Homo sapiens: one gene and its partners. The protein of the gene in region 6 purifies or fractionates together with the protein of the main gene of each other region. This does not show direct contact. Each region holds a gene or a part of one and is shown on either strand. Other genes may lie near its edges.

Evidence for each region.
Region 1: the proteins of TINAG (region 6) and MOCS1 purify together in Homo sapiens (affinity purification with mass spectrometry; 2 studies listed by BioGRID and IntAct, with this or other methods). This does not show direct contact.
Region 2: the proteins of TINAG (region 6) and COL4A1 purify together in Homo sapiens (affinity purification with mass spectrometry; 2 studies listed by BioGRID and IntAct, with this or other methods). This does not show direct contact.
Region 3: the proteins of TINAG (region 6) and NUDT6 purify together in Homo sapiens (affinity purification with mass spectrometry; 2 studies listed by BioGRID and IntAct, with this or other methods). This does not show direct contact.
Region 4: the proteins of TINAG (region 6) and FBXO21 purify together in Homo sapiens (affinity purification with mass spectrometry; one large-scale study listed by BioGRID and IntAct). This does not show direct contact.
Region 5: the proteins of TINAG (region 6) and COP1 purify together in Homo sapiens (affinity purification with mass spectrometry; 2 studies listed by BioGRID and IntAct, with this or other methods). This does not show direct contact.

Annotation. Positions count from the first base shown.
Region 1 is NC_000006.12:39,913,292-39,918,457, forward strand, and holds part of MOCS1 (molybdenum cofactor biosynthesis protein 1), read right to left. Parts: intron 2,942-5,166; coding exon 2,777-2,941; intron 545-2,776; coding exon 483-544; intron 138-482; coding exon 26-137; intron 1-25. UniProt on the Homo sapiens protein: Isoform MOCS1A and isoform MOCS1B probably form a complex that catalyzes the conversion of 5'-GTP to cyclic pyranopterin monophosphate (cPMP).
Region 2 is NC_000013.11:110,152,838-110,158,003, forward strand, and holds part of COL4A1 (collagen alpha-1(IV) chain isoform 1 preproprotein), read right to left. Parts: intron 2,561-5,166; coding exon 2,446-2,560; intron 1-2,445. UniProt on the Homo sapiens protein: Type IV collagen is the major structural component of glomerular basement membranes (GBM), forming a 'chicken-wire' meshwork together with laminins, proteoglycans and entactin/nidogen.
Region 3 is NC_000004.12:122,915,586-122,920,751, forward strand, and holds part of NUDT6 (nucleoside diphosphate-linked moiety X motif 6), read right to left. Parts: intron 2,120-5,166; coding exon 1,916-2,119; intron 1-1,915. UniProt on the Homo sapiens protein: May contribute to the regulation of cell proliferation.
Region 4 is NC_000012.12:117,154,914-117,160,079, reverse strand, and holds part of FBXO21 (F-box only protein 21), read left to right. Parts: intron 1-1,995; coding exon of another isoform or gene 1,996-2,016; coding exon 2,017-2,207; intron 2,208-4,131; coding exon 4,132-4,289; intron 4,290-5,166. UniProt on the Homo sapiens protein: Substrate-recognition component of the SCF (SKP1-CUL1-F-box protein)-type E3 ubiquitin ligase complex.
Region 5 is NC_000001.11:175,986,216-175,991,381, forward strand, and holds part of COP1 (E3 ubiquitin-protein ligase COP1), read right to left. Parts: intron 3,265-5,166; coding exon 3,147-3,264; intron 2,198-3,146; coding exon 2,073-2,197; intron 889-2,072; coding exon 728-888; intron 1-727. UniProt on the Homo sapiens protein: E3 ubiquitin-protein ligase that mediates ubiquitination and subsequent proteasomal degradation of target proteins.
Region 6 is NC_000006.12:54,349,409-54,354,574, reverse strand, and holds part of TINAG (tubulointerstitial nephritis antigen), read right to left. Parts: intron 4,860-5,166; coding exon 4,679-4,859; intron 3,224-4,678; coding exon 3,178-3,223; intron 63-3,177; coding exon 1-62. UniProt on the Homo sapiens protein: Mediates adhesion of proximal tubule epithelial cells via integrins alpha3-beta1 and alphaV-beta3. This is a non catalytic peptidase C1 family protein.

The DNA of each region.
Region 1 (5,166 bases), about 14 Mb from region 6:
CCTCAACCCATCCCTGGTCACTGACCATCAAAGGGCATATACTCTATGAAGCGCACATCCAGGGGGAGGCCCTCAGTCAAGGCCGCAAAGTCCAGGAGTTCATCCTCGTTAAGGCCTCGCATCACCACACAGTTCACCTGGCCGGGGAACAATGGGACCATGAGGGCTGTGCCCCCTGCATTCTTTTGTGGAGATGACCCTTGGGGGCCTGGCACTCACTGAGGCCTTCCACTCAGGGACCCATTCCTTGCTTCTCCCACTCAGTTCTCTAAGTTACGGGATTCCTTGGGGTCACTGATTTTCTCGTTTCTCTCAAGGGTCGGCAGGGCTGGACCAGCAGGGAGAGAAGAGGTGGAAGGGTGCACGTACTTCAGCCATGCTGGCCAGAGCTGAGGGCTCTCAAGTGGGCCAAGGGGCGGTGAGGGGAAGGCCAGGGCAGTGTGGAGGGAAGTCGGGAATCTACGGCAGGGGCACGGCCTCACCTTCACAGGGTTGTAGCCCAGCTCGATGGCCTTGTGGATGCCCTCCATGACCTTGTGGAAGCCTGGGAGGGAGAAACAAGGATCCAGGAACTTCTGTCCTCTCTCCTCTTCCCCCACACCCCCACAGAAAAGCACCAGAGCCCATCTAGTCTGGAGATTGGCAAACGTTTTCTAAAACAGGCCAGAGTAATATCGTAGGCTTTGCAAGCCAAGAGGCAAAATTGAGGATCCGTGTAAGTACATGTCACAAAGTGTTGGCTAAATTCAAAATGTAATAGTAATAACTGACTACAGTGTCTTGTAAAACAGATCTACAAATGGGATACAATAATGCGATTCTTTTTGCAGGGACAATATTTTGCTTAAATGGGGTTCATAGTTAATGTTCCCTATCATTAACTGATTTTGAATGCTATCTGTAAAATGCATTCTTGGCTCAAAGGCTACATGAAAACAGGCAGGGGGCTAGATGTGGCCTGTGGGCCATAGCATGCTGACCCTGGATCTAGTTGAACCCTCTTGTAGTCTACGGGAGGAAACCAAGACCCAGAGTGAGGCAATGCTCTGCTCAAAGCCCCATGGCTCCATCTTTCAGAATGCAGGTTTTCCACTCCCGTTTCAGTGTTTTTTCCTCAACAGTCCATCAATTATTCACTCAACACATACTCTCTGAGCACCTACTACGCACAGGTGCTGTTCCAGGGCTGGTAAGCAATTATTGTCTCAACAATCATTAACCACAGTCAATGTGACCCCAGGCTGACTTCTCACTGCCCAGTTCTCTCATGCATCCAATCACTTGATCACCTACTGCATCCTGGCCCCCTCCAGCACCCCCAGCCTGCACAGCCTGGGTGGTCACCTGTGAGACAGGGTGCCTAGAGATGGCCTCCATGGTTTCCTTGCAGCATTTTCAGACTGCTCAGTGAGAGGGTAAAGGGAAAAATGTATAGCTTTGAAAAAAATAATGCTGCTAGGATAACCTAGAACTATAAGTTTTCTTTTCTGTAAAACACTCCCCTCCAAAGGCAGGTGGTGGACAAAAGAGTATGAATGGGAGGGAAGATCTGATGTCTCCAATCCATGTGCCAGGAAATAAGAGACAAAAAGGGAGAACGTGTTTGCGGGCAGTACAGCCCACAGATCCACCTCCCACTTTCCCACCGTAGAGCCCTTGCAGGTTCTGTACTCCTGCTCCCCCTCAGAGTATGTGCCATTGATTGAAACCCTCCAGTTCCTCAAGGCCAGCATGCATGCATCCTCCTTGAAGCCCTCCTAGTTCTCTCCTGCTAAGAGTTCTTTCTTCCTCTCTGTAACTCTTTAATCAGTACCACAAGACAAGCAAAGGCTGTCCCATGGAATGACATCTTTTGGCCCTTAGCAGCCTGTAAGGACAGGGCAATGTCTTATGTGTCTTCTGTCCCCTCCACAGCACCTGGAGCAGGCCTCCATAGAGGAAAGAGACACCATGAGTGCTTCCTCAGCACATGGAGGGTATTAAGCAAGGCATCACACCCCGTTTAAGAAAAGGAAGGAAAGAAGGTGGTGGGGCTGATCTTGAAGCTGTTTCCAAGGAAGAGGAAGGAGATCTGGGTCTCCCTGCCACCCCTCTGATCCTCCAGAGTCCTCAGTCATGTACCCCCTCCCAAATATCAAAGGGTATCCCAACCTGAAGAGCCTTTGCCCCAACATGAGGTCCATGCCAAAGGGAAGCCAGGCACTGGTCTCCTGTGACCCAGAGCTCGAGGCTGGCTCCACCTGTCTACCTTGGGCCTCCTGAGGCAGGTGAGTGGAGGGTATGGCTGTGCCTGTAGTAGGAGGTGCATAGGAGGGGCTTATACCCAGGTGGGCACAGGGATAACCATGGGGGCCTGCTGGGGGACCCCCTCCTGGCAGCATACACCCAGACCCTGGCATCCCAGGGTGGCTACTTCCACCCTGGGCTGTCCCGTGTTTCTTCAGAGCTCATCGTAGAATGACCAACTCGGCCCAGTTTGCCACAGACTGTCTTGGTTTTAAAACTTCAAGTCCTTCATTCTAAAACCCCCTCAAGTCCTGGGCAAACTGGGGCTGGGGTGGTGGGGAGGTTGGTCACCCTAGGTCATTAGCGTCTGACCCCCAAAGTCCCTGACATACATTTGGCAAAGATGAGGGGTGAGAAATAAGTGCTTTGACTTACTGATAGCCCAGACACCAAGAGGAAGTGACCAGGCCCCTGGCTCAGCAATGGCCATGCCCTCCCCAGCTATGTGCAGGCCCTGGGAGGGACACCCACCCCATCCACATCCGCTCACCTTTCCTGCGGACAATGAACTCAAACTTGGCAGGCACCAGGGTGTCCAGGCTGATGTTGATGGCACTGAGACCAGCCTTCTGAAGCTGGGGCAGTAGCCGGGCCAGGTTGATGCCATTGGTGGTAACACCTATGGTTCTCAGCCCTTCCAGCCGCTGGAGCTGGGCTGTAAGGACAACAGAAAGGGGGTCAGACTGCTTGCTTGTTCTTGGTGAGGCCGGGAAAAGGGCTGGAAGGCAAAACTCTTTGTCCAGACAAGATGGATGGAAAAGAGGCTCTCTGCAGACCTATATTAACCAGGCCTAACTTAAAAAGAAAGCTAAGAATCAAAACTGACAAAAACAACCAAAAGATTAAGCATTGAGTGCTCTGTGCTAGGTGCTCTGCTGAGGGCTTTGCATACATTAGCTCATTGAAGCCTCACAATAACAATTATCTCATTTAGTAGGTAAGGAAAGAGGTGCTCTGAAAGATTATGAAAATTGCTTAATCTCACACAGTAAGAAGAGCTGGCATTTAAATCCATGTGTACTTGACTCAGGACTCTGCTCTTAACAACCAAGTACTACACAGGTCTTGATACTCTGTATAATGGAAACAAAAGTGTTTGAATTAAGTGCTATTTGACAGCTCCATTCTACCAAATATCCCTAGAAATAATGGAAGGATTTTAAAAATCCATAATAGCATTGGAAGGTAAGAAAGAATGCCGTAGATAGCCCAGAAAGGTAAATTAGTACTGAAAGAGAGAAAGCAGATGGAACCGACCAGACGGATAGAGACCACAGCTCAAAGTGCACCCAGGAGAAGGTTCTGTAAAAACAGGGAGTGACTAGTGTGCACGCAGCTTAGTAGTCACATGTACAGGAGCAGAGGGGTCCTACTACATGTCAGGGAGGTTGTCTAAGAGGGGAGTTATATTTGAAGGAGCTGGACAGGTTGGCCTCATCCTTCCCTGTCGGCACGGGAAGGCAGCAGAAGCATTTGCCTCAAGGATAAAGCACCAGTGCAGACACTTAAGCCAGCCATGGGGCTGTATTAGTTCCTTCTCATGCTGCTAATAAAGAAATACCTGAGACTGGGTAATTTATAAAGAAAAGAGGTTTCATTGACTCACAGTTCAGCATGGTTAGGGAGGCCTCAGGAAACTTACAATCATGGCAGAAGAGGAAGCAAACACGTCCTTCTTCACATGGCAGCAGCAAGAAATGTTGAGCAAAACAGGAAAAGCCCCTTATAAAAATCATCAGATCTCGTCAAAACTCACTATCATGAGAACAGCATGAGGGTAACCACCCCCATTATTAAATTACCTCCTACTGGGTCCCTCCCATGACACGTGGGGATTATGGGAACTACAATTCAAGAAGAGATTTGGGTGGGGACACAGCCAAACCATTTCGGGGGCAAGGCCTGAGTCCTGGTGACACTCAGCAGTACCTCACACCCCTTCTCCACAACCTTGGAGCAACCCAAACAGAAACACAACACAAACAACATTGCCGGGCAGGCCAACAGAGACCTCAGGCACTAAGATGAGTACACCGCCAAGAATCAACAAACATTTAAGGAAGAAGCATGAAAGAAAGATAACTACTTCCCCAAATAGAAGAATGAAAGGAGGAGGAGAAGGAACAGTGATAACAGAAGATAATTCTTTTAAAAAGCAGAGGGAATATCCTTATTGGGATAAATATTCAATCTTGAAAATAAACCAAGAAAAAACCCTAATTAGGGCTCTTGAAAATTAAACAATATATAGTTACAAGAAGAAAAAACTTGAGAAGCAGAATGAACACAGGAATGAATGAGCAAACTGGAAAATTCAGCAAAGGCATTCTTGAAGAGCTGGATACAAAAGATCAAAGAATGAAAAGAATGAGTCTGAAGAAACACACCTGCTCACATTCAAATCCAAGAAGATCTAGAGAAAAGATAAGCTATGAAAATGTACACAGTAGTTATCTGTGATCAATAGGATCATAGGTGATTTTTGTATTTATTTATAGGTAAAATTTCTTTCTATAACAAACACGTTTTCTTTGATAATGTGGGTGACACACATACACACCCCTCCCCCTGAATTTTAGCTGACCTTTGCTACATGGACAGTGCCACTGACTACACCCTTCCAGCCACCAGACCAGTTGTTTCCAAGAAGCTATGTAAACGTATGTCTCTATGAAGACCCAGCTCAGCGCTGCAAGAGAGAGGAAACCAAGAGTAAAGTGCTCAAGTGAAGCCAAATATTAGAAAAGGCAGAATGTTACAAAATTCATCATCAGTTTAAGGTAGGGGTGCATGGGAATGCACACAATCATGGTGTAAGAATAAAATCATATAATCTTTCTGGAGAGAAGTTGTACATGAATTTTTAAAGCCTTTGACCTG
Region 2 (5,166 bases), on a different chromosome or scaffold from region 6:
GTCATGAGACAATAGCCAAAATGTTCAAATAATGTTGTAAACAACTGATGTGGAATCAGACTTTACAAATGCATTCCTGTATTTGCTATATTAGATGCTATTTATCTTATAATAAGGTAAAGAATAATCATTCAATTTTTTTTCTTTAAAAAGAGAGAAAAACAAGAGAAAGAGAAAAAAATAGCTACTACTATATCAAATTGCATTTTGGTCTAGCAGGTTTAAGTAGGACCTTCCTGTACTCAGAAATCAAGACCTTAAAATGAATGACATACAAACTTGACTAAGACATTACAACAGAGCCCCGTGACTATTATTTCAGATATAGGAAATGTGAACTCTAGAATTTTGGAGACACAAGGGACCTTTGAGGACAAGGCTAACTCCACTGATTCCCAGCTGAGGACATTCTCGGATCTGACCAGGATCACATAGCTTCAAGGCGGAGCAGAGGCAAGGACGGGGTCTCCAGACCTCCAGATCAGAGCCACCGTCCTGAGAACTCAGAGGAGGTGCTGGAAGACACTGTTCTCTAGAACGTCACTATTTTCGTTTGCTCCTGATTTAGACAAATTATGGGCAATCACTGTTTCAGGCCTTTTGACACCCGGACAAGGGTTGGTGGTGACAACAGCTTTCCTGTGGGTCCTCAATGCAACTGTGGGCTTTCTCTGACACACAGAGATTCCACTCAGTATTTCTTATGATTATGGAGTGGCGAATCCAATCTACCTTTTAATGAACATGGCAAGCTTACATCATTGTTAGTGTCCTGATTTCTCTATACAGCATTTTCAACCTTTCTGGCTCTCTCGATAAAGTAGTTACAATGCAGCACTTCGAATTATTGCAACAACCTGTTAATCTGGTGGTTGCAACATGAAGAGTGTAGCTGCAGTACAATCAACCCAGCAAATCATACAATCAAACTTGTACACGTGCACGAACATTTTAAAAATTGCTTTCCTGCCAACTTTTTCTACACTTGGAAAAATGTGTAGAAAAGCACAAGAAAAAACCAGTAGAAGGAAATGGCAATGGTGGGCGCCTCGCACACAGCACGTCTGGAAGGTGGAACAGAGACCCTCCACACGGCTGGGGCGCAGGGCAGACGCCACACCATCCGTGAGTTACCTTGTTATCTACCCTCAGCGTCCTCACTCAAACATTAAAAAAATGCTTTCCCGCCAATTTTTTCTACAATTGGAATAATTTACAGAAGAAAATAGCTATGAAGCCTGTCAATCAGATAATAAATAATGTTCATCTGTGGGTCAAATGTACAACTTGCCCATTCCTGACAGTGTGAAGATGGGACTAGGACTTCCAATGATGGTGCAGATGTATGTGTAGGGTCATTTACTGGGAATTGGCAAATTCCGGGATAACTCTGATCTTACAAGTTCACGGCTTGTATATATTCAATCAATACTGCCAACTGGGGTAATAGAATAAAATAAGCTACAATGAGTGTATCAAACAGGGGCCTTGTTTTCTGTTTCAGTTGGCTTTTGTGGGAAAGGGAAGCCCTGGGGCTAGGAGAGCAGTCCTTGCCCTCTGGGAAGGGTCCCAGGCGGCACTGCCCCAGGAGGGCCTTCGTGGAGGCCACGGCCAGCCCTCGGGTGTTCTCTCCCTAACTCAAGCTTCTGCTTTCAAGCTCGTGCATGTTGTAGTAGAATGTGTACTCCCCACGTGGAGGCTCTCTTCCTCCTTTCCCTGAAAGAGGCCTCCACTCCATGTAAAGAGGCTGGTCATATAGAGAAGTTGGTCACATGGAGAAGCTGCTCATATAGAGAAACCGGTCATATACAGAAGCTGCTCATAGAGAGAAGCTGGTCATACAGAGAAGCTAGTCATATGGAGAAGCTGGTCATACAGAGAAGCTAGTCATATGGAGAAGCTGGTCATACAGAGAAGCTAGTCATATGGAGAAGCTGGTCATATAGAGAAGCTGCTCAAAGATGGAAGCTGGTCATATAGAGAAACTGGTCATATGAACAAGCTGGTCATACAGAGAAGCTAGTCATATGGAGAAGCTGGTCATATGAAGAAGCTGCTCATATAGGGAAGCTGGTTGTATGGAGAAGCTGGTTGTATAGAGAAGCTGTTCATATTGCTGGTGCTGGAACAGACCCGTAGAGCACCTGAGTGGAGCAGCCACAGGGAAGCAGAGGCCTGGGCCTGCATTTCCAGGAAGATGCTCATCCCAGCTACCTTGGCTGTGAGCAGGGGAGGGTTCTGGCTGGTGCTGGAGACCCCTGCTGTCACCAGGCAGGGCAGGCCAGGCTTTGAGGCATGCTTTGGAAGGGGATGGTTGGAGGAAGAAGGAGGGGCTTAAGCAGCGAGATGCAGAGAACTCCAAGGTGTGGAGGCACCAGACAGAGGCGACTATGGGGCGTGAGTGGGGCTCTTCCCGGGAAATATGGCGTCTCCCCAGACACTTACCATCACAAAAGAGTAGCCGATCCACAGCGAGGACCACCCGCTGGGGCACGGTGGGATCTGAATGGTCTGGCTGTGCACGGCCATCACCATGGCAGGCGCCTCACACACAGCACACCTGGAAGTGGAGCAGAGACACTCAGCACAGCCGGGGTGCAGGGCAGAGGCCGCCCTCCATGCACTGCCCCGTTACCTACACTCAACATCCTCACTCAGTCTTTCTGGTCCAATTACATATTAAGTAGAAAACATTGTGCCCATTGCTTAGACTCTGAGGTTTAGTACCTCCCCGTTGGTTTTATAAGCCTGTCTCAGTATTAAAACATTCAATTCAAAAATAGAGCAGGATGGCTGGGGGCGGTGGCTCATGTCTATAATCCCAGCACTTTGGGAGGCCGAGGCGGGTGGATCACCTGAGGTCAGGAGTTCAAGTCCAGCCTGACCAACATGGAGAAACGCTGTCTCTACTAAAAATACAAAAAATTAGCTGGGTGTGGTGGCACATGCCTGTAATCCCAGCTACTCGGGAGGCTGAGGCAGGAGAATCACTTGAACCTGGGAGGCGGAGGTTGCAGTGAGCCGAGATTGTGTCAATGCACTCCAGCCTGGGCAACAAGAGTGAAACTCCGTCTCAAAAAAAAAATTAGAGCAGGACACAGGCCTGTAGTCCTGGCTACTGGGGAGGCTGAGGCAGGACTGCCTGAGGCCAGGAGTTCAAGGCTGCAGGGAGCTATGCTCGGCCTGCCTGTGGGCCACTGCTCTACGGCCTGGGCAACATAGCGAGACCTGCCCCTAAAATATTGTTTAAAAAATAGATCCAACACGAGTTATTTAACTGTCTGTCTTGTAGAAGGGGAAAATAGGAAGGCAAAGCTCTAACAGTGGCTCTCCTGGAGGGGCTGGGGTTACAGGCAACTTTTCTTCTTTGGGCATTTGAGTGTTTTCCAATCTTTCAACAATGCATACGTATTTCCACAAGCACAATAAATGCTTCAGAAAAAATGCTGGTGAAATCCAAGAGCTACTCCTTCTGGAATGCAACAGTTTGAAGCTACTAATAATCTTTAGTATAAGAAATGCACTTAGTGAGTTGAGTAACTAAGACAAATAATGCATGCTTTAATGAACTTAAGGCTGAATGTCCACATGGGCCTCCTGCGGGAAACTTGTCTTTTTGGTCTGCCCTCTTGGCTCAGATGTCCAAGGTCCAAGGCTGTCAGCATCCACTGCCGCTGAAGTGACCTCCAGAGGACCCTCCCAAGGACAGGATGCCTCCCAAGCCAGGCTGATTCAGCTCAGCCTTGGGACTGCACCAGAAACACATTAAAACAGCACAGTGTTCTGACTAAGACCCTCTCAATGAAGGGAACCCTTGATGGTGGGATAATGCTTTGTTTAAAAAAAAATTAAACGTCAACAGTGAATAATTACATTCAAGTCACAAAATGAACAGAGTGTTAACAATGCTGATAAATGACTATAAATGGTGTCAATAATTACACCTAGTTATACTGGGACATTTGCATGAACGTGGATCAGAAGGGGGAATAGGGCTGAATGAGTCATTTGATTTTCCATGGACTTGTGTGTGTGTCTGTCTGTGTGTGTGTGTATGTGTGGTGTGTGCAATTTTCTATTTTATTCACCCAAATGCAGATGAATTAAAAGGTTCAGTTAAACAACAGTGACTGAAATTGGCCTTATACATCTGCCACCATCTGTTTGCTAGACACGAGACCTAGAAATACAGCCTGGAGGGAAGGGTTTTGTCTTTTTCAGACTGTCTCTGGGCTGAGGGATTCAAGGGTCCTGCCCCATTGCAGGCTTAAAGAGCTGTGTGATTCCTTAAAATTCACATGGCCAAATTCTCCATATTGCATATGAAGAAACTAAGGCCAGGGTTAGTTGTGTCCAAGACAGAACGAAAATGCAGTTCTCCTTGCTCTCAATCCAGCGGTCTTTTCGTCAGAGCAATTAGCAATCAGTATTTATTTCGTGAGTCTTGTCTGCAGAAAGCTAGAAAGTACTTAGAAAATTGTGCCCTACTATCGGATGAAAGCTGGAAAACTGCCACCTTTTCTGCTCAAAACGAAGGCTTTTGTGTCATTTGCTGTTTCTAAAATTTAGCTTTCGGACCTCCCTAAAGGGAAGAGCTGAGAAGGAACCTGTAAGTCCTGAGAAGTCGTGGAAACCACTAAGTTCAGTAACCGTGGAAACCTGCTTGCTCAGAGACAGGGACAAAGGGGCAGCCTCTCTACGAGAGGGAAGTAGAGGCAGACTTGATGCAAAAGCAGCAGCTTCAAGTACATGCCTGGGAAGGTCCCTTCATGCTGAGCTTCGATGTGTCAACTAACAGGAAGACATAAAAATCTGGAAATGTAAAGTCCTGGGACATTTCAGGACTTTCTGGTCCAATGACATGTTAAGTGGGAAATGCTGTGCCCCATTGCTTAGACTCTAAGGTTTAGCACCTCCCCGTTGGCTTTAGAAGCTCATCTCAGGATCAAAACATACAGAGACTTAGACTCTTGGTGCTCAAAGACCAGGGGTGTTTTACTGAGAGGAATGCATCACACAGAAATGCTGGTCTCAGACACACAGCTTCTCTGAGACCTGTTTTTGGACTACCACCAGGGCATGCCAGAGCTCCTGTCAAGGAGCTCTGAATCAAGGTCAAATGTCAACATTGCCAAGAAAGTAAACAGGAAACCTATCAATGAATAG
Region 3 (5,166 bases), on a different chromosome or scaffold from region 6:
TGGTCAAGTTCTGCATCTCTTATTCTTTGAACTGCTCTGACACTCTAAACTATAATGTACAATATACAATATAGTACTTAGTTATCAACAGGCCCTTCATAGGATACTCTTTTTGCATATATTACCAATTCTGTAGTAATAACTGGGAACTCTTAAGAGTCTGTGCCCGTGAATGATAATTATTTGCATAACTTTCCATTGAAGTGTGAGGCTGTCACTAAATTATTGAGTAGAATCTTTTGAAATAGAGCTGAACGGAGAGTTTCTGAATGTCTACTTGCTACAGGGAAGTAAGACAGGGACAGAGAAGACATCATTAGGCATTCTTGAACAACTCCTTGAAAAGCCTTGAAAAGCAAACTACCTTAAAAACTCTTGTAAATTATATAAAGGCAAATAAAATTATTAATTAAATAACTAATATGCTTCATTGCTTTCATTTATTAAGGTCATAAGGATCCCTTACTATTATAGTTTTTCTAGAAATCTAAGAATTTTGGTCCTTAAAGGGTAGTACTGAGACCACCACCAGCAGCAGCAGCAGCAGCAAAAACAGAAACAGCCAGGAAGATCACCTGAATTTTCAGGTCCCACCATAGACCTACTGAATCAGAAACTCTGGGGATAGGGCCCAGCAATCTGTTTTAAGATTCCAGGTGATTTTGATGCAATCTACAATGTGAGAATCTGTGTCTTACTCTGAGGGAAGTCTTCTCTCAACTTTCCTATGTCTCTGAAGCTAATCAGCCACTTCAAAATTCTACTCTACACTTAAATTACACGATTTTAAACAACTGTTTGGCACAATAATGTAAATATTATTAAGAAGTAATTGTTCAAATCATTGAAAAATTGGTTTGCTTTACCTGAAATTCAACATAAAAATGATCATTTACTTTACAAATTTACATAATTAGTGCCAACATGTTTTACTCTGCAATAAATTTATTCCCTGATCCCAATTCAGTGCTACTATTTGAGTAGTGAAGTTTAATTATATGTGTAAAATATATTCAAGCATATCCTTTGGAAAACTAAACACTAAAGTTGTTCTCTGTGCGTCTGTCTACTGATTGAGGCAAACTTCATCTATTTAAAAGCACTATGTAATAGTCCTATTTAAAAGCACTATGTAATAGATACTGTAGTCCCCCTTGTCCAGTTTTGCTTTCTGTGATTTCAGTTATACAAGGTCAACCATAGTCTCGAAGTGTTACATCACTACTCTTGTGCTTCGGGGCATTAATAAGGAAAATAAGGGTTATTTGAATCCAAGTACTGTGATACTGGGACAGCTGATCTGATAACAGGGAAGGCTACTAAGTAACTAATGGATAGGTAGCCTATGGATCATGGATACACTGGATATGGGGAAGATTCACGGCCTGGTGGGACAGAGCAGGATGGTGAGAGATTTCATCACATTACTCAGAACAGCATGCAATTTAAAACTTAAGAGTTTTTTTCTGGAATTTTCCATTTAGGTCATAATGCCTGTCATTCACCTCACTTCACCTCATCGTGCAGGTGAATACAAAAGGGTGAATACAAAACAATATTTTGAGAGAGACCACATTCACATAACTTTTATTACACTATACTTTTATAACTGTTCTAATTTATTGTTAGTTACTGTTAATCTCTTACTGTGCCTAACTTATAAGTTAAACTTTATCATAAATATGTGTGATAGGAAAAAACATGGTATATATACATAGGGTTTGGTACTATCTGCGGTTACAGGTGCCCACTGGGGGTCTTGGAACACATCCTGTGCAGATAGGGTGGAACCACCGTAATCATTTAATCAAATAACTCATTCCACATGAATAAACTATTTGCTTAGCTGTAACAAGCAAGAAATTGGGTGAACGTCTAAAAAGTTAATTCTGCTCATCATGAGTTTGAAACTGACCTGCAACTCCTACTTGATGTGAAGCATATCCTGGTAATCTGCTGGGCCCTTCTCTCAGCCACAGAGTCAACGTTGATGAATCCGATTCTGCGTGGTGAAAGCAGAAGCCCAGGGAAGCAGCAGGGGCAATAAATCGGCTTTGGAGGATGGGAATGTGCAGCCATACAGCTGTTCTACCTTCTGATCGCCATTGCTGTACTGCAGCTAAATGCAGAAGAAAAAAGTCTAAATAATTTCCAAAGAGACGAGTGGAATAAATTAAAACTCACCTCAGGGTTTCGCCTCCTCCAGGAAACCATCTTTAAGCAAAAGAGGTCCCCAAATGTCTTGTTCACATCGCTGGCACTGGAAGTACCATGTTTTATAGTAACCACCTTGTTTATATGATTTTTCCATCAGACTGAATTCCTTCAGAATAAAGTCATTACACTGCTGACCTTTATATCCATACCACCAAAGACAATGCTTGGCACGTAACAGATGTTCTGTAGTTTTAGAGTGGACAAATAAAAGGATTTAAACCGAATCAAATACCATTTGAATGCTGTTCCTTTTAACATCCTTAGGTTTAATCTTAAAGACAATTATGGACTTCTATTTTTTTCTTCCTTTAGGAGTTCTGTTATAATGTTTTTAATGTATAAATTTCAAGGTAGTTAAACTTTGTTTTTAAATAATGTATGCTGGTTGTAGAAATTTTGAAAATAAAAAATATGAAGAAATCAAACTTCACATTTTACTAGCATATAGGAATAAAATTCTAATTTTTCCTTATTATAGATAATATCATGGTGAACATAATTATAGGTTTTCTATCTTTGCCTTCTTTAAATTCTCTTTACTACTTAAGATTGAGCCAGGGGAAAAAGATGCTAATATCTATTTGAAACTTACTAAGTTCCAAGCACTTTATATATATTATCTCATTAAGTGCACAACCATGAAAGGTATTACTACCTTAAGTTTATGGGTGAAGAAATAAATACTTCAGATTTAGAGTTTTTAGAAAAGCTTTTCAGATCACTTTCTTCATCCATCATCTCACTTAATCTTTATAATAACGCTATAAAGCGTGTGTGTGTGTCTGTCTTTGGGGGTTGATTATATATCAAATAGTTAATTAACTTTCCCTTCTCTTTTCCCTAGCTCTGCAGGAAGCTCCTCTCTTTAAGGACAATGTTCTCTACCTCTTTGAAAGTTGCTGTGCCTAGCACAGTGACAGGCACATGGGGCCTTTAATAAAGACTTCCTGATTTGAGTTAGCATGCAGTGGAATTATGGGATCAGGTCCTTCTCACCTTGCTCTCTTTGTCTGATGACATCTTTTAAAAATTGAGGTAAAGTACATAAAGTGAAATGTACAAATCTTAAGTGTACATTTCATGCGATTTGACATATGCATATGCCCGTAACACACTTTAACATTATAGAACATTTCTATCACTCCATACATTTCACATGTGCTCCTTCCCAGGCAATCCTTCCAATCAAATTAAAAGGCTACTTTCTAAAAGCAATGCTATTTGCTTGCTGTTTTATATCTACACTCTGTGTCTTGGAGAATCCACTCTCACTGCTTCAGCTGATACATACATGAGGATGGCTGCCCAGCCCTGACCTCACTGAACACTAAACTTTCTGTTCTCCAGTTGCTCCCAGACATTTCCTGTCCTGAAGGTTACCACTTCAGACTTCACAAAGTGTGTTCAAAACTGAATCTTTTGTTGTTGTTGTTGAGACGGAGTCTTGCTCTGTCACCAGGATGGAGTGCAATGGTGCAATCTCGGCTCACTGCAACCTCTGCTTCCTAGGTTCAAGCGATTCTCCTGTCTCAGCCTCCCAAGTAGCTGGAATTACAGGTGCGTGCCACCATGCCCAGCTAAGTTTTGTATTTTTAGTAAAGACGGGGTTTCATCATATTGGCCAGGATGGTCTTGATCTCTTGACCTCGTGATCTGCCCGCCTCGGCCTCCCAAAGTGCTGGGATTATAGGCGTGACCCACCGCGCCTGGCCAAAACTGAATCTTACACCCCAAACTAGCTTCATTTATAAGCTTATTTATTTCTGGCACCAATGCTTGAAACCTTAGAATCATTTTTAAATTGCTTTCTTCTTTTCCCTAATAAGCTTTATTGCTTTTTCTTCCCTCACCTCCCATTCCCATTGCTAATATCTATCCTTTAAAGTCCAGCTCATATTCCACATCTTTGACCAGTCTTTCCTAACCACTGCTCATGAGCTCACCATTATGAATTTAAAGACTACTATGTCTGTACAATTTATTAGAACTTATTACATATGACCTAATGATATCTCTTCCATTAGCTATTTTTTCCAATTCTATTTAATATTCCATGCATTTGCAATCCTCCAGGGTAACCCTACATTATGCACTGGGGCTCAATTTGTACTAATGAAATGACTGGCTTGCCTAAAGTCACATAGCTGGTGAGTGGCATAGCAGGGACCAGAACCAGTGCTATTTCATTACTGATGCAGATATGTTATGTGTGAAGCTAACAACATATTGCCTGTTTATCCCTCTAACTTCAGTTGTTGGTAACAAAACATCAATAGTTCATGTTCTAAAAGAATATGAATAGTTGACTTCTTATTCCACCAAGAATATGGACTTCTTAGTCCATAAAGACTAAGAATAGCGGACTTCATGTGTAAATAGTCTCTCTTTATAGGCACTACCATTCAGTTAGTTTTGTTCAATTATAACAACAGAACCAGCAGGAGTTCTTCAAGGTAGCATAGTGCAGTAAGAAAGGTGTAGAGCCAGGGCAAGTAAATTTTTCTCTCTGTGCCTCACTACTGTCATCTTTAAAATAGGAATAATAATGCTATCTACCTCAAAGGGTTGTTAGGAGGATTAATTACTATTTATAAAGATCCTAAAACATCTACCATTAAGTGCAACAAAATTTGTTTTATTGAAAAAATATAACAAGTATTTGGTACTTAAGTTTACAAATTAGTTTCATCTTTGATCAACGCATCTATCCAGTAATTAGAGCTGGCGTTATTCACAAAAAGCAAGCTAAGAAGCAAATATTTTTGGTGGCAATTTGCCTAATGCCTGGCTAAGCACATGGCAGAACCTGGTACTTAAACCCAGAATGTGCACCTCCAAATCGCACAGCTTTCTGCTTTGTCATGCTGACTGGGGTAGTGCTTTGATCACCTGTTTGGTCATTGATAAGTATCAGTGGGTACAACACCTGTGTCTACCCACACACTGGAA
Region 4 (5,166 bases), on a different chromosome or scaffold from region 6:
AGGGAAATGCATCATGGGTAATAGACCCCAATCCAGGATCTCCACCCCAGAAGTGGTGATCTTGCGGCATTCTAGCCCTAGAGTATTTGGTGGGGACGGCATGGTGCCTGGGTCAACACTGTCTGCAAATACGCCAGGCCCCGAGGCACAATGTCTTCATTTCTGCCCTCTCCCTTCGCGCTCAGCCACACATCCAGCGAAGGTGGGGGTAATTATCCTTGACCTTATCTAGACTTCCTCTGTTCTCTGACGATGCCAAGTTCTGACCATTTTACTTATCTGATGGGGAGGTGGCTGCTAGGAGAGAAGGGGAGCTGTGTGTGTGGAACACAGTGGAGGGGCAGAAAAAGCGGCTTGTTGGTACTCTTTCAGGCCACAAGGACAGCCATTATGCAGGCACTGTCAGTAGGCGCTTCCTATTAAAGTAAAGGGTAAATCTGCGAGTGTCCCACAATTAAAAGCACCCGGCTGGAGGTAGAGGCACAGGGGGATTGGCTGTCTGTTGATTCTTGTCAAAACTGGGTTTGGGGTACTTGGGATTATACTGCTTTGTCCATTTTTATGTGTTTGGAACTTTTTGTAGTAGTTAATTTAAAATGCTCCTGCTCTTGCTAGGATATGACACTGGTTGAGACCAAGAGTTGATCTTCACACCCAGAGCCACAGCCTCACTCCACCTCTCCACAACCCTGTGACCCCGGGAAAGTCACTTCACTAAGCCTGAGTCCTGTTCGGGAAGTGGCAGTGATTAAAAGCTTTTTTTTTTTTTCCACCTAATCCTCCCAATTTGAAGATCAAGAAATTACTGACCTTCAAATGGGAAGGATTAAGTGAAACAAAAAACCTGATGGACTTGGCACAGTGACCAGCAGAGAATAGTGTTCAGTAAATGTTGAGGTCCAGCACGTCGCAGTCTGAAAGGCAAGATAATAACATGGTGCATAAAACTGGAGTTTTCACAATACTTTGACAGGCTCACAATGCATCAGCAAATAGGACAGTGATTACTCATGATTTGATAAGCTAAGAAAGGAATTCAGAGGTAAAAACGCCAGCTAGTCTGACCGATCTGGGCCTAGAGTCCAGGTTGCTGTAACGCACTAAGCAGGCTGTAATCCAGGACTCAGTAAATTGGAAGGAGAACCTTGTCAGAAATTCTATGCTAAGGGCTGTAAACGTAATGGGTGCGAAATAATTGTATGTCTGTGTCTTTTTAAACGTGGAGTTTTTTCCACAGAGGCACTGTGTGCAGTAGAGGCGGTAATAGTGGAGTCAGACAGGGCTGCTACTCTGTGCTACTAGTTTAACCTCTGCATAGATGTAGTTTCTCCTGCTGCCTGCTGAATACCAAATACCATGATGAGTTAAGACCACTGAAGTGACCAGCAGGATTTTAGAACTCTGATATACGTGGCTCCCTCCTTCTAGTGTAGCTTCATAAACTCAACGAATGCATCCCTTTGGTGCCCACTCTGTGACCTTTTCCATCTTTTCCAGCACTGAGGCAGTTGTGTCAGACATCCTCTTCGTCTCGATTAAAGCAATTTAGCATTTTTTTTTCCCCTCTGAATTCGTGAGTGGCAAGTGAAAATCATTCCTGTGTATTGAAAAAACGTGGATTCTCACATTTCCCATGCCGACCAAGCATGCTAGGTGCTGTTAGAGCCCACCTCATCCAGAGTGCCCTAGGTGGTGGGCCCTCACCTGCGTCCCCAGCGCTTATCCCAGCACACTGGTTTCCAAAGAACTCCTCAGGTTGACACTGGTTGAATTGGGGTATCCTGGGCCAGCTGCCAGTGTTACAGTAGAGCCCAACCCTGGGCATCTGCAGTGCCGATTTGGTGGCGGTCCATCAGAGGATGGTCCAGAGACCTGGACCGGTTCGATCAGGGCATAGCCACCCCTTTTGGTCCTTTGCTTTGTTAGGTTACGTAGGTAGGTCTAAATCCCTCGCCGCAAAAAAGAAAAGGCCTAGCTGAAAATATTATCTTTTAGTCTTTCTGTCTTGTTTTGAAGGTGCTTGACATCCTCCAGCACATCCAAACCCTAGACCCGGGGCAGCACGGGGCGGTGGGCTACCTGGTGCAGCACACTCTAGAGCACATTGAGCGCAAAAAGGAGGAGGTGGGCGTAGAGGTGAAGCTGCGCTCCGATGAGAAGCACAGAGATGTCTGCTACTCCATCGGGCTCATTATGAAGCATAAGAGGTGAGTGCCCGGGATCATCTGTCCTGCAGTGTCCGTTCCAGAGGGGCTGCAGAGACACACATGCACCTGGTGAGCCCCCAGGACACAGTGGAGGAGGAGCTGACTGGATCACTTATCCCCCGAGTGCGCACCGCGGGGAAGACAGAAAGCTGAACCTCTTTTTTTTTCTTTTTGAACCGTGTCTTTGACCTTTGTGTTTTTTAAGCAGCAGCTTACTTTCCTGAGAGATCTTCTAGTGTTTTTAGTGGCCTTTAGATGTTTGACCCTTCTCTGTGTGTGAGAACATGGAAGTAACTTTGTAAGACACGAGTTTTTTCTCTCATTTCCTCATTGTTCTTATATCTTGTCACTTAATCTCAGTCTCTTCAAATCCGATAGGCACTTGGTCTATTTACCAGGCAAAATTAAACTGTATCCAAAGTGATTGGAGCAGTTTACATCCCACCAGCAGGCTGGGAGCCTGGAGTTCCTATTCTCGCCTGGTGCTATTGCCAGACCTTTAAAAGTGTACTTACCTGAGAAAGGGCAAATAGTGTTTCACTGTGGTTTTAATTTCTGTTTCCTGGGTTACTAAACACGTTAAGGTTCTTTTCATATATTTACTGGCTATCCAAGTTCCAAATTTCCTTTTATTAAGCGCCTATTCAAACATTTCATTTTTCTTTTCTTTTTTTCTTTTTTTTTTTTTCTTTGGAGACAGTCTGGGTCTGTTGCCCAGGCTGGAGTGCAGTGTTGTATCTCAGCTCACCTGCAACCTCTGCCTCCCAGTTCAAGCGACTCTCATGCCTCAGCCTCCCAGGTAGCTGGGACTACAGGCGCACACCACCACGCCTGGCTAATTTTTTGTGTTTTAGTAAAGACAGGGTTTCACCATGTTGGCCAGGCACGTCACTAACTCCTGACCTCAAGTGATCTGCCGTCTCAGGCTCCCAAAGTACTAGGATTACAGGCGTGAGCCACCACACCCAGCCCATTTCGTGTATTTTTTTCTATTGAGTTATTAGTCCTCCCTAATATGATATGTAGTTGTTCTTCTGTGTATCAGTATCTACATGACGATAAGTTGCAAATATCTTTTCCCAGTTTTTGGCTGGTGGTTTTCATTCTTTATTGCATTTTTTTAAACTTTTAAATGGAAATTTGCAAAGATTTATAAGAGAGAAAGGACTATAAGGAACCAGGTGGTGTTCCTGTCATCCAGCCTCAACAGCTGCCATACGGGGTGAATCTTACTGTCCCCTGCACCCTCCAGACCTTCCTCCCTGGGTTAATTGACGCAAGTGCCAGATGCCATTTCACCTGTAGCGATTTCAGTATGTACCTCTAAAAGGCAGGGGTGCTCTCTCCTTCTCTGTCTTTTCATATTTAACATCTTATTATCACATCTAGAAAACCCCAGTTCCTTAACTTCATGCAGTATCTAATGAGAGTTCCTATTTCCCCAGTTGTCTCATATTTTTACATGTTTGGATCAGGATTTGTTAGTCTCTTGGTTTTAGTGATGTCAGATTGGTTAGTCTTTTCCTTTACGGCTGTATTTTTAGTGCCTTGTTTTAACAAACCTTCCCTATCTTGAGTCATGAAGATACTTTCTATTTTAGAAGTTCTGCATTTAACACCTGAGTCTTTGCTGTACTGAGAATTGAATTTGGTGTGCTGTTGTCAGGCCAGGTCCCCATACCTTTTTCTTTTGGGTAACCAGTTGTCATCTAATCACTTTTTGTTGAAAAGTTTATTCTTTTCCAGATAAAGTGCTATGTTGATAATAAGAGGTGTTTATAAAAGGGGTTAGGGGTGTCCTGAAAAATGATTCACCGTGGAGTAAAGCAGGTAACTGAGGATGTGAGCTGAGAAGCCACGCGGTTGTCTGGAGGTTGTTGCGGCCGGGTCTGCAGGGACTGACTGCTCCTCCTGTGTTAACTAGGTATGGCTATAACTGTGTGATCTACGGCTGGGACCCCACCTGCATGATGGGACACGAGTGGATCCGGAACATGAACGTCCACAGCCTGCCGCACGGCCACCACCAGCCTTTCTATAACGTGCTGGTGGAGGACGGCTCCTGTCGATACGCAGCCCAAGGTAAGCGGCGGGTTCCGCTTGTGCCAGTGGCCCCGCGGGCGTGTTTTCAGCGCACGTTTGAGCCCTCGGGTAGGTACTGTGGGCGTGGGCCATCGGTTCCTTCAGAGGCGGCCGACGCCCCATGGCCGGCCTCCTTCGGGCCCACAGTCAGCTAAACGTGGCTGGGTCTGCACAGGTGCCGCCCTGGCGAGGGGTCAGTAGTCATACCCGCCCTCCCCCAGGGCCTCCGCTCCCACAGCCCGGACATCTGATTGGCCACTGTCTATGCCAATCAAATTCCTGTAAGTCCTGCCTCCTGGACCCTGCCCTCGGCTCCTCCCAGACTAGAAGGGAACCGGATGAACACCTGGGGGCCCCCTAGTGCTCCCTGGCCTCCCAAGGCTGTGGCTGCCGGCTGACGCCGGAGATGCCCTCGTGTGGCCACCTGTGGGAACTGCAGCCCACTGCGCCGGCCCTGGGAGCACCTGAGAGCCCGCAAGTGTACAGTAAGGTTGGGTAGGCGTCTGGGCCACTGCCGCCCCGGCAGGTGCCAGCCCAGGGCAAGGCTGAGGTGGAGACTGACAGAGCCTGTGGAAGCTGGTAAGAGACAAGAATGCCTTCAGTGTGAGTCTCCCTTCTCTTTGTTCCTGTTGAATTTCACCTCTACTTAATAGGATGAATTCAGTGTATGTCTGTCAAAGCATTCACATTGATTAATTAATAATTCACATTTATTAATAAAAATGAATGTGAATGCTAATGTAGTGCCATTCTGTGACGGACATCATTCTAATGTATATTAACTCCATTTGAGAAACATCATCATCATCATTTTCTAGGTGAGGAAACTGAGGCACAGGGAAGCCATTGAGATTTTAACTTAGAGAACACGATTTGA
Region 5 (5,166 bases), on a different chromosome or scaffold from region 6:
TCACCGTGTTAGCCAGGATGGTCTTGATCTCCTGACCTCGTGATTTGCCCGCCTCGGCCTCCCAAAGTGCTGGGATTACAGGTGTGAGCCACCGAACCTAGCCTAAGAATTATTTTTTCATATAACTTATGAAAAACCTTATACTTTAAAACATAAGTGAAAAGTTTGAGGCAACTCCACTTTATAAAACCCAGTAGCATAACTGTCTCATCAATATACTAAATATGCTTAAATATTCATATATAAATGTATTTTGTAGACAGCAATTCTACTTTGAAATAGTACTTAATTAGAGGACCATATAGGCCACTATCCTTTACCTGTACCAATTCTTTTTCTCCCTCCCTATTAAAATACCAGCTCAGCTTAATGTTTATCAAGCTTATACTGCACATAATCAATAAAGAAAATGAGACAGAATGCATATTTTGGAGGAATTTCCAGTCTTATAGAAGAGATATGAACAGACAATATGATAATGGTTATAACTGAGATATGCACTAAATGCTATGGGTCACAGAGGGACATTATGACACCATGACATTGCTCTATTACTATGCATTTCAATCACTACCTAAAATGCCTATTGTCTTTGGTGACACATTACAAAGTTTTTTAAAAAGTACATACCACATACCAATTTATATTTTAAAATTTAATCAAACCCTGTGTATACATAATGCATAATATGAGATCCCAAGGTGAAAAAACTGATATGAAAACTTACCCCATCTGGTAGTGCCCTCCAGCACACAGCACTAACAAATTCATTTGTATCATCTTCTTTTCGGTCTTTGTCGAGAACACTTTTGACTGTATCAAACTTAAAAGTTAGCAAAGTCTTAGAAAGTCCTTTATAGTACAGGTAGAGAGAGTTATTTTCACTTCCTGAAAACAAATAATAATAATAGTATTTTAGAATAGAAAAACTCGGAATTAGGACATCACAGTCTAATAGTAATTATCAGCCAAAGTTATAGTTCAAAGATCTTTTATGGGCAAATTTGAAAGGCTAGATCACAGGACTAATTAGAAATCATGTAAGAAAAGGATTCTTGGACAAAAGCTATACTTTACTAATCTAAAGAAACAATCAGTGTTAAATGATACAACAATACTGATAATTCTAAGGCTAAAATTACCCTATAAAATCATTTATAGAGGTTGGTACAAAAGTAATTGTGGGTTTTGTCATTACTTTTAATTACTTTTGCACCAGCCTAATAAGTCTATAGTAGAACCAGAAATATATTATAAGAATCTTAAATTACATTTAGGAAGATTTCCATTTAGAGAGGTAAAAGAAAGTGGCAACACTTACACAGGCAGATTTTCATAGCCTACATAATTTATTTCCATTTCTCAGTATAGGAATTATTCTATTAATGGTCTATGAACTGTATTTTTATTTTTGAGCCATCTATTAAAGATAGAATAATTGTTCCAGATATTTGCTTTGGCAGTCTCATACATATGTGGAGAAAGTCAACTTTGCTGAACAAAGGCCAAGTCATTTAAAAGTATGATCAAAGCTCATCTATTCAGGCATTAGATGTATCAGAGCATTTGAATAATATCAAATTTGATTTTTCTATTTCTTATTTAAATTTGTATAAATTATCAACAATAAAAGCCATAGAATAACAGATCAATGCTATGCAAACAGATTACTTCATGAAGAGAACAGCAGATAGGGGAAAATGAATATCAAGCTTAAGAAGACACATAATGTCTCCAAAATTGGAAATATTACTAACAGAACTTAACCTTTTCTGTCTTCTACACAATATCTAAAGAATTATGTTATAATGGAGAACAACTATAAAACAGTTAAAAATCAGGTGTTCAGGTATTTGAGGTGTTCAGGGTTTCTACACAATAAAAAAGGGAAGGACTAATGCTCTTCTAGTACAACACAAGGAAAATCAGTAGTGCTGGGGCATCATGTCTATTATACTATCTTCTGAGTGCACAGACCATTTCTTGACTTAGTATTTATTCTATTTCCACTGAGTTCAATTTCAATAACAAACACCTGTTAAAAAGTTCCTGGAAACGATGGTTTCACTTACCACAAGCTATATAATCTCCATTGGAAGCCAGGCCTACAAAGTTTTTTTCATTGATATGACCCTTGAAGGAACGTAGGCAGTATGGTTTCCCTACATTCCACAGTTTTAGCTGACTGTCTGTTGAGCTGAGGAAAAGTACAAAGAGTAAGAACTTACTTAAAATTTCTTGGCACGAAACTCATCACTACTAATTAGAGGCAATGCAGTTTGCTGGTTAAGAATGCAGGCTCTGGAGCCAGACTGAGTTAGCACGTTCATCTGTCGGCCAGGCGTGGTGGCTCACGCTTGTATTCCAAGCAATTTGGTAGGCCGAGGCAGGTGGACCACCTGAGGTCTGGAGTTCGAGACCAGCCTGGCCAACATAGCAAAACACCGTCTCTACTAAAAATACAAAAATTAGTCGGGCGTGGTAGCACGTGCCTGTAGTCCCAGCTACTTGGGAGGCTGAGGCAGGAGAATCACTTGAACCTGGGGGGCAGATGCTGCAGTGAGCGGAGATCACACCACTGCACTCCAGCCTGGGTGACAGAGCGAGACTCTGTGCCAAAAAAAAAAAGTTTTCTTTTCAACATATTTAAAGTCACCATGAAATCACAGATAAATGACCATGTCAGTGTAAAAGCCAACCAAGTAATATTTAAAACCAAAAATAATTCTACTACTATACTGCAAGTAGATAAAATACACAGTAACACATGAGTTGACTTTAATAAATAAAATACTTCTCATTCTATTGCATCAACTATGTTGTTTATCTCTTCTTTAGAAGCAATAGCTAAAATCTAATCTGAAGTTCAAATGCAATTAAACATAGGAGGATGAGATAAGGGGGGAGGGTATATAAAAAACTAGTATCTTCAGGATTTTACCCACAATTCACATATAAAAGTGCACAATACAGACCAGAAACCACACTACTTTAATTGGACAAGATTAAAAAAAAAATCTACTATTTAAGAAAAAGTACATATACTCCAATATTATAGTTTACATACACCCTCAGTGACATTACAAGCTGGTAGGTAAGTACAGAGCTCTGTATTAAGCTCAACCTCTGAGGAGAGTAATACTCACGCAGAGACAATTTCCTCACCACTCACAAACTTTGCATAAGAGACTGCTTTACGGTGTCCTTTGAATACCATGATTGGCTGTTTAGTGTTACGAAGATCATAGTAGTGGACACAGTGATCTAAAACAAAACAAAATTAGATAAATGTAGTAAATGCAGAAATGGAAAGCAAAGTTAATTTTAACTGGTTTTTGGTTTTTTCATTAAAAGTTTCACATATGATGTCTAATCTCTAACAGCCAGAAAACAAAGGAAAAGGAATCCTTTTCAAATATAAGATTGGCTCTAGAAAGAGAGTATTAAGGGGTCAAAATAACTGGAAACTTAAAAATCAATCTTTGTTTTAATGATGTCATGAAAAAAATGTTAATATAAACATTATGGGACATCTGGATAAACATAATGCTATATAATCTTATTTCCCATATTTGTTTTAAAAAACCATTATTTAGATATATTTTGCATATAATAAAATACACACACTAAAAATATTGTATGCAATTCAACGATCTTTACTAAATTTAACCAGCAGTTCAACTATTACCATAAATCAGTTTTAGAGTATTTCTGCACTCCGATAAGATCACTCATTTGGCATCCACCATCACAGGCAGTCTCTATTCCTGTCTGTCTCTATCACTAATTTCTACTCTAACCTTTATTATTTCCTTCCTTCTGCTTGTCTTCAGTTAGCTTTGTTATTCTTTTTAAAGACAGACACTTAAGGATACACAATTCTCTATCAACACTGCTTTGGCTGATACCACAAATTGTGATATGATGTGTTTCCATTTTCATTCAGTTTAAAATCCTTTTACATTTCCTTTGTTATTTCTTCTTTGACTAATGGTTATTTAGTAATGTGTCATGTAATTTCCAAATACTTGCAGATGTCTCAAAGTAACTATTGTTGATTTTTAATTTAATTCCATTTTGGTCAGAAAACTGTTTTGTATGTCTTCAATCATTTTAAATTTATTGACAGAAAACTGTTTTGTATGTCTTCAAGCATTTTAAATTTATTGACTTATTTTTAGTCTTAAATATGGTGTCCCCTGGAGACTGTTACTAACACTTGCTTGAGAAGAATGTGCATGCTTCTACTGTTGGCTGAAGTGGTCTTTGGATGTCTGTTATGTCAGATTGACAATGTTATTCAAGTCTTCTAAAACTCTGCCAATTTTCTGTCCAGTTTTTCTATGAAATATCAAAAGTGGAGTATTTTTCAACAACTTCAGTCAAAATATCTGTTTTTCCCTTAAATATCACAGATTTTCTTTTCATATATCTACAAAAAGTTTGTTTTGAGGTGTGTTGATAATTGATGTATCTTTTCACTATTGATTCTTTTACCATTATAAAATGTCTTTGTTTCTAGTACTGATTTCTACTCTAAGTATATTCTGTTCGACCTAAATATAGCCATTCTACCATTTTTCTTGACTACTACTTACATGGTATATCTTTTTCCATCCTGTTACTTTAACCTATTTGTGTCTGTGAATCTAAAGTCTATCTCTTGTAGACAGCATAAAGCTGGATTCTAATTTTTTTTTTTTTGTAAACCCATTCTGCCAATCCCTGAATGTTACAACATTCAACATACTTACATTTAATATAATTATTAATAGGTTGCACATCTGAAATCAAAAAATCCCAAATCCTTGCTTTTGGAGTGCCAACATTTCAATCAAAGCTCCAAATGCTTCTTCATTGGAGCATTTCAGATTTTGGATTTGAGATGCTGAACAGTAAGTACAATAATACATACTTAACAATGGAGATACATTCTGAGAAATGTATCATTCAGCAATTTCATCACTGTGTGAGCATACAGTGTACTTTCACAAACCTAGATGGTATAGACTACTACACACTTAGGTTATGTGGAATAGCCTATTGTGCTCCTATGCTACAAACCTATGTATCATGTTACTGTACTGAATGCTGTAGGAAACTGTAACAATGGTAAATATTTACGTATCTAAATATAGAAAAGCTACAGTAAAAATAAGATATAAA
Region 6 (5,166 bases):
GGTAACATGTCTGTATATCCCTGTCTTATAATGGAAGAAATCTTCACGGACTTGCATTATGGCTAAAATAAAATCCAACAGAACAAATGGCACAGTATTAAAATATCATCTTTAAAAACCACCAGAAAATTTCACGGAACAACCAATGGGTAAATTGCAAGGAGATGAATCTAAGAAGGGGCTGTGTGATTCAGCCTAATTTTCTTTCCTACTTAATTAATTAGTTGCAATATTTTTTTATCTTATAAAAACAACTTTTAGCTATTTAGAATATTAAGTACACATTATGCTTTTAAAACACCATCTAGTCTTAATCAACAGAGACGCTACTACCAAAAATTAAGCGCTTGCAACAAAAGCATACTATACTTGGTCAGTGATTGCTATTTCTCCACTAACCTTGTGCTTTACCACAAGCCTTTTAAAACCCCAATTAAGCTAGCAGAGCCTAGCAAACTGAGCTTAAAGCAATTGTTGTTAATCCTCATAAGTAAATACAAACCTTTCTTTTGTGAGTTGGAATAAAAAAGCAAACTCCTGGCAAAATAAAACTTTGACAGAATTTCATCCTCCCAGCTCTGGAGAGATAAGCAATGTTGTACACTTTAAAAAGCAGGGCTTATATTTTAGAAAGCTCTCCTTCCTTCCTTCACCTAAATTACTTCATCTCTCTATTGTGTGCTGCTTTGTTGAAGGGCTTTGGCAATTCAGGGTGAAGCCTTTAAACTTCTCTTATAGAAGATATGAATTTGAAAATTTTTAATTGGGATTAGATATGTATAGCTTGATAACTGTGTACAATACTTGTCTTAATTTGACAAGCATTTTAAATAAAATAGGAAGTAAGGTAACTAGTGTTTGACAGATCCTTTAAAAAAGCTTATACTCCAAAGTTAAATATAACTTTTCAATGTTCCAGTTTTTGTTTCATTTTTTAATGTTCCATGCCTTTTCTGATGCTGTGCAAATAGTCGCAAAAGAGGTTAAAACTTCTTTATCTACTCTAAAACACATTCCTAGAGGATTTTAAGAATTTATGTAACTGTACTTTACGCAGATCTCTGCTTTTGTTCTCTATCCATCACCTATACTTATTTTCAATCCTACAGATTTTAGAAGAATGTACACAAAGTTATTCATTCAGGGTTCTATTGGCTTTTACACTCTTTCGTACTGAGACAGGGGAAATGCCGTATGCCAGGCCAGGCAATCCTGTAACATTTATAGCAAGAAGAGTCAACCAGCATTCTATCCATTTATAAAAATGTGAAGATATTGCTAGTGGCTTTTCTTTTCTGTAGAACCATTGACTCTTTGAGGTCTTATGATTCAACTTTCCTGTAAGCATCATAAATAAAATGTATTCATTATTCCTGAAAAACACTGCCACCTAAGAAAAAGGATGAGAAGCCACCATAATTACCTGAAAGATGGCTTCTTTCTGCAGTTTCTGATACCAAACAGACTTGATAAATTCACGAATATATAACTATATAAGTTACAATCATGCAATTTTACTTTTGGAAAACTGCAGCAAACTCATTATACAGAATTATAACACGGATGAGATGTTTGGTTGTTCCTCGTCTCTTGCTCCTGGCTTAGGCTAGCAGGAAGCAGGTTCTCAAGAAATCTTTGTTAAATGAATGTTGAATAACTTGCATTTTTGTTTTATTGCTTTGAAATGTTATGTCTTTATTTTTTATTCATTCTGTGAAATTTATGAGCATTTCAGTATATGGCCATAAAATAAATCTAAGGTATTTAAATTTTCTCAATTTTAAATAATTACAATTCAAAATTGTTTGATTGATTTAAAAAGAGGGAGAGAGAGAGGGAAAAAGAAAAAAAAAACACTTGAAACAATAATACAACAACTTGAAGATTCTGAAAGGTTAAGAAAATTGCCCAAAGTTATTTAAACAGCAAATGCCAAAGTTGGGATATTTTAGTGTAACCTTGAGTCCAAATGCCTGTGATCTTTTAAATTTGTCACACAAGCACCACTTAATGGAGCATGCATTGAAATTAGAGATTAATTCCCTCACTCTTCAAATAACCAACAAATAACCAACAGCTGTAAGGGGGAACAGAAAATTTCTCTTCATTTGTTTCAGGTTTTGGGTAATGTCCCATAATTTTCCCATAATTTTTAAAAATTAAATTCAGGACATGTTTATGTAGGCTGTGGTTTCTCAATAAATGCTAAGTGGTGATAATGATCAATAAAAATTCATCCAACACAATTATAAAATCCATGATTCCTGCCTATATATATTTAACCGATACTAATTAGATCAGTATTCAGAAAAATTAAAATTGGCAACAGTTCCTTAAGTGTGTACCAAATGTTTTACATTTAATTTTGGCCTATTTTTTATTCCACTGCATTGATAATATATTCCGGGCCCTTCAGTATTCACAACCTAAATTTTCATTTTAGACCTCATTGGATTTGTTCTTCCATGCACTTCAAGCCAATGTTTATACAGGGAATACATTCTGTGAGTATACCCTTATTCAGGTCATTGATGCAAAATAAAATTCAACAGGTAAGCAGAATAAATTATCATAAGAGATGATATAAATCAAAGGCAATATACAAGTAACTGTATGATTTCATTATTTACTGTTACTCTAAATAAAACATTTACAAAATTGATCAAAATTGAAAACCTTTTGTAAAATGTAAAATTACACTAGTTTACTCGCTTTATTTTGAGCTAATAGAAGGAAAATATTAATCCTCAATTTTTTCAATCCACGACCTAATCTATTTAAACTGAAGATAAGAAAACTGTATGTATGATTCTTAAATATGACTGAATAAATAAAGTAAGCTTCATTACAAATTAGTCAGTTGGCATTTCATGTTGGACTTTCTGTTGGTCCATGATCACTTTGGAAAGATTTCGGAGTTATTCATCAAATGTGTCATTAATTTTTAAGAGTTCAATTTATAAATGAGTCTATCTTCTGAAAATAAAATGGCAGCTAATTAAGATATAGGTAAGCATATTTCTCATAACTGCACTCATTTTAGAACTGTTGAAGCCTTTTGGATACTCTTAAAGTAAAAATTTTCTTTATTTTATTAAACTCCTATTACATGAGCTCAATGTAATGTTGTTTATTAAAGGAATGAGTAAGAAAAAACCGTATTTCATTCAAGCTTACCTTGAACTGGTCCATTTTGCATGATTTCTTTCATTATCTCAGTTTCCTGGATGGAAAAATATGAATAAGCAATATCATTGTTATCAGAGCATACTAAACCCATTGATTGGTGTACAATGTTAAGTGTTTGCAATTTACTCTCAATTGTACTTTGAAAAACTCACGTATATTATGCTACATTAATGAAATTGTTAAAGACAAGATGCACCCATTTGTTTTAATGACATTTATCACTAAATAGTAAATTTGGAGTGGAGACAAAATACAATAGCCTTTTATGGTTATAAAGAAACAATGTAAGTTAAAGCAATATTTAATTAGTGGAGATTACTAGTACCTCTAATTTTTTTCTCACAAGAGATATCCCAAATGATTGTTTAGTTAGATGTCTCAGTAGCTTTAGTACAAATATTTCTATGATGTCTCCTAATGTTTAATGAAGCCCTCTGTAGGGAGGCAGGGCACTCATTCATCCATTTTTCTGTACATATTGAGCACAAAGTACATGCCAGAAACTATGACAGGAACAAATATTGACCCTGCACCTATACTCAAGGTATTTACATTTTGGTTGAATGACACTACTAATTTCATTATTATTTAATAAGATCCATTGTAGAGACAAGCGCAAAGTGTTACGTTTGCAAACAAAAAAGGAAAATTAATTCTGCCTGGAAATCAAGGAAAACGTCACAGAGAAGATGAAGTTTTTACCTGGGCCTTGACATTTGCTTGGCATTCTAGATGGAAAGGCTTGATAACCATTTGCATCAGAGGAATTATCACCTAGCTAAGTGGAAAAGTATAACAGAGCATGGTGTACCTGGGGAAAAGAGACTAGTTCTATGTATTAGGAGCATTATGGCTGGGTAGAGTGGCAGATGCTGGCAGGACATGAGTGTATAAAAGTAGTACGTCAAAACCAACTCATGAAAGGCCAATGTGCTATGGTTAGAACACCGAATTGTATTCTGGAGATAATTAGAAGACACTGGAGGTTCACAAATTCTGAAAACGAGAAGGCTTGGGGAACACTGATATGAAGAAGTAAATTCGCCTAGGCTTTTAACAGACAAACTAGAATCCAAGGGACTCTTTTTTCTATTAGACCCAGGTCCTCTTAAATTATTTTGTTGAGTGAGGCAAAGGATTGATAAAATGAGCTAATACCACAAAAAAGTCAGTGAAAAAGTGTTTAACTTAACTTTTAATTGTCAAGTTCAAATATATGTATATACACATATTATGAAACATAATTTTAAAACCCTATTTCCTTGGACATTTTAAAATTTAAGTCAGTCCTTTACACTGCTAATGTTACAAAGATAAGACATCATACCCAAACTGAAAGTCCTTAAAAATATTAAAAATTATACATGAAAATATAATATTTATTTTAGAATATAATAGTTTTAATTAGTTTTTAAATTGTTTTAGTTACAGTAGAGCTATATACATTTGAGAAAGCCAACTATTCTTGATTCTTGCCATTTATACTTACGTTGGAAGAGACTCTGTATGGAGGAGAACATTGATAGATCCTGTTAGATTTTTCTACGTTGTTGGGACATGGCTTCGTGGCATGCCGTTTTCCTCGCCCATCAGACCTGCTTGCCATGGCACATCCATTGTTGGTAGCATTTTGGTCTTTGAAAAGTGGGTAGCATGCGTGGGATACCAGTCTATGAGGAATAAGCAAAGAAGCAAAGGTAATATTTAGGAGAATGTCGTAATATCCTTTTTATATTTAATCTTACTGAATTAAACATTCATAAATTATTCTGGTTACTTACATGCATAATTTTCAAAATAGTGAGTGACTCCAACACAGAAGCTCAATGACATTACACTCTTCCCTACCCTCCTCTTATTTTTTCATTATAATTTTAAAAATCTTGCTTTGATCAATTTTTATAAATAATTCTATCTGTAGTATAGAATTTCCTGAAGATAAAAAATGGCTGTCAATATTAAGTCTGTGGTAATATT